Linked DNA regions of Homo sapiens: regions 1 and 2 are each linked to region 3. Evidence: fine-mapped expression QTL. A gene starts in region 3. Each other region holds a variant in brackets. All regions are shown on one strand. Distances are from middle to middle.

Region 1 (2,757 bases), 26 kb after region 3:
ACATGTACCCTCTGAGTCTGGCTTCTATAATTCAGCATGATGCTTTGGAGGTTCATCTACATCATCGTGTGTATTAAGAGTTCTCACCTGGGCGCGATGGCTCATGCCTCTCATCCCCACACTTTGGAGGCCAAGGCAGGTGGATCACCCGAGGTCAGGAGCTCAAAACCACCCTGGTCAACATGGTGAAACCCTGTCTCTACTAAAAATAGAAAAATTAGCTGGGCGTGGTGGCGGGCACCTGTAATCCCAGCTATTCGGGAGGCTGAGGCAGGAGAATTGCTTGCAAACGGGAGGTGGAGGTTGCAGTGAGCCAAGATCATGCTGCTGCACTCCAGCCTGGGTGATAAGAACGAAACTCCATCTCAAAAAAAAAAAGAGTTCTCATCTTGTTACTCGTGAGTAGTATTCCATTGTACAGATGTACTGCCGTTTGTTCAATCTTTCCTCAGTAGAGGGGCATTTAGATGGTTTCCCATATTTTGGCCTTTATGAATAAAGCCACTATAAACGTTCTTGTACAGGTTTTTGTGTTTTTATTAAATAAACAGTTTTTATTTCATTTGGGTATATTTCTAAAAGTGGGATTTTTACTTTATTTATTTATTTATTTATTTATTTATTTTTATAGAAACGGGGTCTTACTGTGTTGACCAGGCTGGTCTCAAACTCCTGACCTCAAGCAATCCTCCCATCTTGGCCTCCCAAAGTGCTGGGATTATAGGCATAAGCCACTATGCCTGGCCAGGATTGGTGAGTTGTATGATAACCGTAGGTTTAACTTTACAAACAAACAAACAAACCTGCCAAACTGTTTCCAAAGAAGCTGTACTGTAGGAGGCTGAGGCACGAGAATCCCTTGTACCCAGGAGGTGGAGGTTCCAGTGAGCCGAGATTGTGTCACTGCACCTCAACCTGGGCAACAGAGCAAGACTCTGTCTCAAAAAAAGAAAGAAAGAAAGAAAGAAAGAAAGAAAGAAAGAAAGAAAGAAAGAAAGAGAGAGAGAAAGAAAGAAAGAGGAAAGGAAGGAAGGAAGGAAGGAAGGAAAGAAAGAAAGAAAGAAAAAAAAAAACAACCAAAGAAGCTCTACCGTTGTGCATTTCCACCAGTGTATGGGAGTTCCAGTTGCTCTGCATCTTAGTCAGCACTTGATGTTGTCTGTTGTCATTTAGTTTATTTTTATTATTTTAACCATGCTGAAATGAATTTTAAAAGTAAAAGTGGCTGGGCATGGTGGCTCACGCCTGTAATCCCAGCACTTTGGGAGGCCGAGGTGGGCAGATCACCTGAGGTCAGGAGTTTGAAACTAGCCTGGCCAACATGGAGAAACCCCCGTCTCTACTAAAAATACAAAATTAGCCAGGCATGGTGGCACATCCCTACTCGGGAGGCTGAGGCAGGAGAATTGCTTGAACCTGGGAGGCGGAGGTTGCAGTGAGCTGAGATTGCACAATTGCACTCTAGCCTGGGCAACAAGACTGAAACTGTGTCAAAAAAAAAAAAAAAAAAAA[G/AAG]GAAAAGTGACCATGGATAAAGGCTAAAATTTATAACTCAGACTCTAAGGCCCTGTGTGAACTGAGCCCTGCCCATTTCACCAGGCCACTCTCTGTTCTCCAGTATCCTTTCAGGTCTGGCTACAGGGCCTTTGCACATGCTGTCTACTCTACTTAGGATGCCATTCCTGCTTTCTGCCTGGCTAATGCCTATTGTCACATGGATCTCGTCCTAAAGGCACTTCCTTGTGGGTATGCCTAGATTCTGTTTCCTTGTTACATGTTTTCGTATCTGCCTTTCTTATTTACCACAGTGGTTCTCAACTGGGAGTGATTTTGCCCCCCAGGGGCCATTTGACAATGTCTGGAAACATTTTTGGTTGTCAAAACCAGGGTAAGAATGCTACTGGCATCTAGTGGGTAGAGGCCAGAGACGCTGCTAAATATCCTACAATGCCCAGAACAGCCTACAGGAATGATCCAGTCAAAATTTCACTAATGCGGAGGTTGAGAAACCTGTATCACAACGTAATCAACTAATTGCTTTTTATGGCTGCCTTCCTGTTCCCATCTCACTCCCCCACTTCCCCATCTAGGCTTCCCTTACCCCCTCCTCGCCATGTGTATTTAGCTGTTTAATGCCTCCTTTTCCTGCTAGAGTATAAAGCCTAAGGGGCAAGGATTGTGTCTGTCTTGTTTTCTATATATTGCGTATCATAGGTGCTTAATAAATGTGTCAAATGAATAAAAGAGCAAATGAAAACTATCTTTCATAAAGCACATCTTTAAGGACACCAGAAAGCTTTCCTCTTGACTTCTGTCTTGGTAACTCTAAATATTATTTGGAAAAAAAATAAACAAGGTGGTGGGGAGGAGGGAGAGGGAGAGAAAAGCAGAGAAGAGGAGGACAAGGAGAAAAGGAAGAGGGAGATAGAGAACACTGTCTTTGTAGACTCAATCTGAGCTGGAATTCCAGCACTTAACTGTCACATAGTCAAGAGCAAGTCACTTTCCCTCTCTGAGCTCGTTTTTCTCAACTGTACAATGGGAATCAGAAAACGAAAGTAACTGTGCTAATGGCTGGCAACTACCCTGCACTTTATAAATGTTAGTTTTGTTCCTTTCTTCCTTTCCCCTCCTTCTCCTAAGTTTCCTGGCCAGCATCAGTGCTCACTCATCCTCCTCAGCCCACTCAAGAGAGCTGCCTGAAGCTAGATGGACAGTTCTATAAATGCTGGTGACGTATACCCAACCTCCGGCACCCGC
Region 2 (2,757 bases), 84 kb before region 3:
AGGGAACTCACAGCCGGTGCCCCAGAGCTGGACGTGCTGCTGATGGTACACCTCCAAGTCTGCAAAGCTCTGCTGCAGGTGGCTGGGCTAGGGGACTTGTCAGGGAGGGGCAGACAGGGGTTTGGAGTCCTCTTTGCAAAGGCTCATCTTGAAGGTGGTGGGAAGCATGAAGGGGTGACAGACCTGCATCCTGGAAGCCCGTGAGACTGAAGCTATTCCCCAGTGGAAGAGAGGCAGACCAGGGTCTGGGTGAATACTCGTGTGGCTCTTACACAGGCCAAGCCCTAAACCAAAGGCTTTGGTGGTGACTCTCATTTATAGGTGCCAGAACCCTAATGCAAACTGGCTCAGCCAACAGGAAAATTTATCGGCTCATGGTACTGAAAGCCTCAGAGGTAGGCTTCAGGCTCGGCTGGATGCACGGGTTCAAATGCTATCAGGACTAGGTCTCTCTCAGTTCTGCTTTGCAATGTGGGTTGGCTTCACTTTCAGGCAGGTTGGTCCTCCTTCTGGGGGCAAAGGTGGTCCCTGGCAGCCCAGCCTGCATCCCATTAGCTCAGCCACCTTGGTGAAAGGGGAATCCCCAAATGACAGTCAGGGAGCTGCCCCCGGGACAGAAGAGATGGGCACAAGCAGGTGGGAGCCACAGCCGTAACAGCTGACCTCGGTGGGCATGTTCCATGCTAATCTGGAGCATCTGGGCTGCTTCCCAGAAACTGGCCTCCCCTAATTTATCAAGGCTGGTCCAGGAATGCCTCCTGGAAGAAGTGGCACAGCAAAAGCACGTTCTGGAGACACTTTCTGTCCTTGACTTTGAGAAGGTCGGCAAGGCAACATCCATTGAAGAGAGTAAGTAGCTGCCTGCCACCCAGGGGCTGCCTATGTGAGCGGCACGGGGACGGGATCAAAGCTCGGGGAGCCTCTTCTGCCTTCCTAATAGCCAGAGTTAATCGGGGCCCAGAGTGGAGGCTGTGGCTGGGCTGGGCTCAGAGATACACACTCTTTGTGGGGAGGTAAGGGAGACAAGTCCTGGAGTTGCAGCACACTCTTCAGTCAGCTGTGTGACTCTAGGCAAATGATTCACATCTCTGAGCCTCTGCTTCCCTATCTGCATAGGAGGAGGGCACTGCACGGGGTTCAGTGAGGTAACCCCAGGCCACATTCAAGGTGCAGAATGTGCCGTCAAACAGTAGCTGTGATCCCAGCTGTGCCTCTGCCCCGTGGGACCTCCCCTCAGAAGGCCAGGTTCCTTGTCTGTAAGGAGAGGCTGGTGACAGCAGCCCCTCCCAGGTTGTTGTGGGGACTGCAGGTGGTGGCCCTGGTAAGATGCTTAGAGCCAAAGTTGCTCACGTGTCACATGGGAATGCAGGGAAGGGACCTCGCATCAAGCCACACCGTCCCCTCCTCCCTACCCCCTCAGGTCCTAGTGGAGGGAAACCTTTC[G/A]GGTCCTTGTCATGTGCTCTCCCCGAGTCACCATTCAGGTTTCTGAACTGGGGCTTTCAGTCATCCCACAGGCCTCGCGGACGAAGGGGTGCCTGAAGCTGTGGAGAGGGTGCACAGGGCCTGGCAGGGTCCTGTCCTGCCCTGCCACGACGCTGCTGAACCAGCTCAAGAAAACCTTCCAGCACAGAGTCAGAGGGAAGTACCCAGGACAGCTGGAAATAGGTGGGTTCCCTTCTGTCCTGTCGTCCCCTCCCACAGAAAGGCTGTATTGAGTCTCCAGGGCCTTCAGGGTGGCCACAGCTGGCCTCATTTCAGCCCTGTCTTCACCTCTGTGTCTTCATGCCATCGGACGGAGGAGCTTTCTCAGCTTCAGTGCGAGTCACCGCCCTTTCACCGGGCGAGAAGGGGCCTCCACGTGGGGCCTTCTGAGCAGTCTGTGGAGCCCTGAAGCTGCGTGCAAACTTGGTGGGCCGGTGCATTTTTTTTTTTTTTTTTTTTTGAGATGGAGTCTCACTCTGTCGCCCAGGCTATAGTGCTGTGGCACAATCATGGCTCACTGCAACCTCTACCTCCCGGGTTCAAGCGATTCTTCTGCCTCAGCCTCCCGAGTAGCTGGGATTACAGGTGTGCACCACCACGCTTGGCTAATTTTCTTTTTTTGTATTTTTAGTAGAGACGGGGTTTCGCCATATTGGCCAGGCTGGTCTCGAACTCCTGACCTTGTGATTCGCCCGCCTCGGCCTCCCAAAGTGCTGGGATTACAGGCATGAGCCACTGCGCCCGGCCGCCAGAGCATTTTTCTGGGGACAGATTCCATGCCTCCCACCAGAGCCTGACGGGTAAAGAATGAACCTTATGGGAAGGGAGGCAGGCAGGGGCCCACGAGGGTATCTAGAAATGCTGGCTGGACTGCGTTCTTCCCCAGAATTTGCCTTTCTCTGTGGAGCAAGTGAAAGGTGACAGTCATGTTCCAAGCACCACCTGGACTGCTTGTTGACATGCATATTCCCAGGCCCTGCCTCCGGGATTTTGATCCAGGTGTGGTGTGGGGCCCAGGGCATGGGGATGAACCCAACACGGTCTGACTCAGGGTGAGTTGGAGTCACAGTCCTGACTCTAGCTGGGCACACTCCTCCCCTACAGCACAGGGAATGCAGTGAGGGACACCTGCCCTCGTGCCATCAGAAACCCTTTTTTTTTTTGAGATGGGGTTTCACTCATGGTTGCCCAGACTGGAATGCAGTGGCGCAATCTTGGCTCACTACAACCTCCACCTCCCGGGTTCAAGCGATTCTCCTGCCTCAGCCTCCAGAG
Region 3 (2,757 bases):
TTTTTTCCTTTCTAAGCGGAGCTCAAAATAGATTTTAATACTACAGCTGATGGATCTCACAATTTGCCTTTTGAGCCTATAAGCTGAAAACAGAATCATCTGCTGTCTCCCTTTACACAAGTAACAAAATCTCTCTATTCTGTATATCGCTTATTTAAGATACTGTGCAAGTGTGGTTTTAGTTAATCTTAACAACCCCCGCAATGACATTTAATTGGGAGTATGTATCTTATTCAGCTGCTTGTGAAAGGAAGAGCTCTTTGTGTTTTTAACTACTTGTTTTATAGATATATGAGAAACCCTCCTTTCCTAACTTTTTAACACACAAGGAGATGACTCCTAAGACAAGGTCATCTCTGCCACGACCAAAGACTAAGCTGCTCATTGAGGAAAGATGCTATTTTAGAGAGGGTTAAAACGTTAACCTTCCTGAGTCCCTGCCTGAAAGAATAATATCATGGCCCCAATGGAGTGGGTACCGCAGGCCTCCTGGCTAGAAGGTTCTTTAGCCCCATATTCTCACGGCTTTCTGCTCCTCTTGGTTCAGCTCACAAAGCAAATGTCTCCTCCTTTGACAGGCCTTCCCTGATCCCCTTCTCTAAGACAGCCGGCCTTCTATGCAGTCACCCTGTACCCCGTTAGGAAGTCGTTCTCTTCACAGCACCTGTCACTATCTGAAATTATTTGCTTTTGTGTTTGATTGCCCTATTCGACTCTAGGCCCCACTAAGGCTAGGATCTTGCCTGTCCTGATTAGCAAACACCACCTCCAATGCCTAAGCGGTGCCTAGCACAGAATAAGCTTGCCAACTCCTATCCAATAAATGAATGAACAGAAAGGGGAAAGGGGACTGTCATCTCTGGGACTCGACGCACACTGAGACTAGGGGAAAGGAAATGTGAAGGAGGGACGGGGGGAGTAACCTTTTCCCCCAGGGAGACAAAGGAAGAGAGTCTGAGGTGGTCCACTCCAGAAAAGGAAATAGTGGGGGTGCTAAATCACCCCAGGGGACAAAGAGTGGACAGGCAGGGGGCGGGGTCGGGGTGCGAGGGATTCGCGTTGAGAGCACAGACCGGCGGTCCCCCGGCTTGAGAGATCACCCGAGCTGGAGAACAGAAGGGAGGTGGGGGATCGAAGGGGGCTCCGACGCTGCGGCGAGAAACACGCCCGCCCCGGGGACAAAGGGTGGGGGGACGCAGTGCGTCGCTGTCCCATCGAATCCTCAAGCAGTAGGAGCGAGGCAGAGGGCAAGACCCAGAGGGAGTCTGGGGCCTGGAGGTCTGAGGGGATGTTCAAGCGGCCTAAGCGAAGGGCCCGCCACGCTCCGGGGCGCTCCCGCACCTGGTAAATGGCCGCCCAGCTCCCGGACTTGTCGATCTGCTCGAACTCCTTTTCCATCTCCATGACGGGCCAGGGCGGCTGCTGCGCCTCCTTCTCGGCCCACTGCGCCGTCTGCCGCTCTAGGCCGCGTCGCGCTCTTAGCCCCGAGGCCCGCTGCAATCCCCGACCCCTGCAGCTACCGCCGCCCTAGCCGCTGCTGCTTCTTCATGTCAACCGGCAGCCGGAACTACGCATCACGCCTGCCAGGGGCTCCGCCCCTGAAGCAGAAGGACCAATCAGCGATCGAGAATTTCGACAAGCACTTCCGCGGGGAGGAGCCGGGGGCGGTGCTAGGGGAAGTGGCCCCAGCACCGCGAGATATCTAATAGCGCGCGTTCCCTCCTCCGCTTTGGGGCTCTGGGCTCGGGCGCGGCGCGCGCCTGTTGCCTAGGCGACCCCGGGAGCCCCGCCCACGGCGCGTGGGCTCTCCAGGCCCGGGAGGGCATTGAGTTCCAGCCCCGACCCGGCCCGTTGAGTCACAGAGTGAGTGGCCTTAAAGTAGTCATGCACCTCCTTTCCTGCAGGGCCTGGGCCCCAGCCTCAGTAATCCAAGCTGGAGTATGGGAGGAGGGCACCGTGCTCTATTTCCTGCCTCCCAGCTCTGGCCAGATGTCTGCCCTTTTTTCATGAAACTCAGGAGTATCATGTTTCACTACGCTGCTGGGGAAGCCCACTGCTCTCTAAGGGTAGTGTCCCTGTCTGAAACGCAGAATTTCCACTTGGGTGCTGCAGGAATGAATGGATGGGGATGGAATGATTTTCAGTGTTTCCCGAAGTATCAAGGAACTCCTGCTCAGACTGAACTAAGCAGAGCACAAATTCCATGGTGCATTATGTTAAATAAAAATCATAGGAGCCCAGGCGCGGTGGCTTACATCTGTAATCCCAGCACTTTGGGAGGCAGAGGCAGGCGGATGTCTTGAGGCCAGGAGTTCCAGACCAGCCTGGGTAACAGAATCAGACCTCGTCACTACTAAAAGTTAAAAAATTAGCCGGTGTGGTGGGGCCCAGCTGCTGGGGAGGCTGAGGCAGGAAGATCACCTGAGCCCAGGAGGTGGAAGCTGCAGTGAGCTGTTTTGGCGCCACTGCACTCCACCTTGGGTGGCAGAGAGAGACCCTGTCTTGAAAAAAAAGGGCTGGGTGTGGTGGCTCACACCTGTAATCCCAGCACTTTGGGAGACCGACGCAGGTGGATCACCTGAGGTCAAGAGTCCGAGACCAGCCTGACCAACATGGTGAAACTCGGTTTCTGCTAAAAAAAAAAAAAAAAAAAAAAATTAGCCGGGCGTGGTGGCGCATGCCTGTAATCCCAGCTACTTGGGAGGCTGAGGCAGGAGAATCGCTTGAACCCTGGAGGCAGAGGTTGCAGTGAGCCAA

Which allele goes with the higher level. Alleles are on the strand shown, and positions count from the first base shown. SD is a standard deviation of normalised expression in the study named. Not every link is listed here.
As copies of G replace AAG in region 1, the expression in non-classical monocytes of the gene that starts at base 1,549 in region 3 goes up (large effect, 0.75 SD a copy in Schmiedel 2018).

What was found. PIP is the estimated chance that this variant, and not a neighbour inherited with it, causes the effect.
Region 1: its variant is fine-mapped to the expression of PTPN1 in non-classical monocytes (Schmiedel 2018, PIP 0.95).
Region 2: its variant is fine-mapped to the expression of PTPN1 in whole blood (INTERVAL, PIP 0.97).

Annotation. Positions count from the first base shown.
Region 1 is chr20:50,483,671-50,486,427 of GRCh38, reverse strand. No RefSeq gene overlaps it. Among named protein-coding and RNA genes, the nearest start is that of PTPN1, 25 kb to the left of the region's middle. RefSeq lists enhancers at 2,447-2,556, 2,597-2,646. The variant G/AAG (reference allele first, on the strand shown) is at 1,513.
Region 2 is chr20:50,593,461-50,596,217 of GRCh38, reverse strand. It overlaps RIPOR3 (RIPOR family member 3), which reads left to right. Exons shown (of 22, transcript NM_001290268.2): 15 at 1-78; 16 at 714-849; 17 at 1,504-1,665. Among named protein-coding and RNA genes, the nearest start is that of MIR645, 9.1 kb to the right of the region's middle. The variant G/A (reference allele first, on the strand shown) is at 1,444.
Region 3 is chr20:50,509,175-50,511,931 of GRCh38, reverse strand. It overlaps PTPN1 (protein tyrosine phosphatase non-receptor type 1), which reads right to left and starts at 1,549. Exons shown (of 10, transcript NM_002827.4): 1 at 1,342-1,549. The coding sequence starts at 1,404. RefSeq lists enhancers at 1,476-1,575, 1,788-2,375 and a silencer at 1,686-1,915.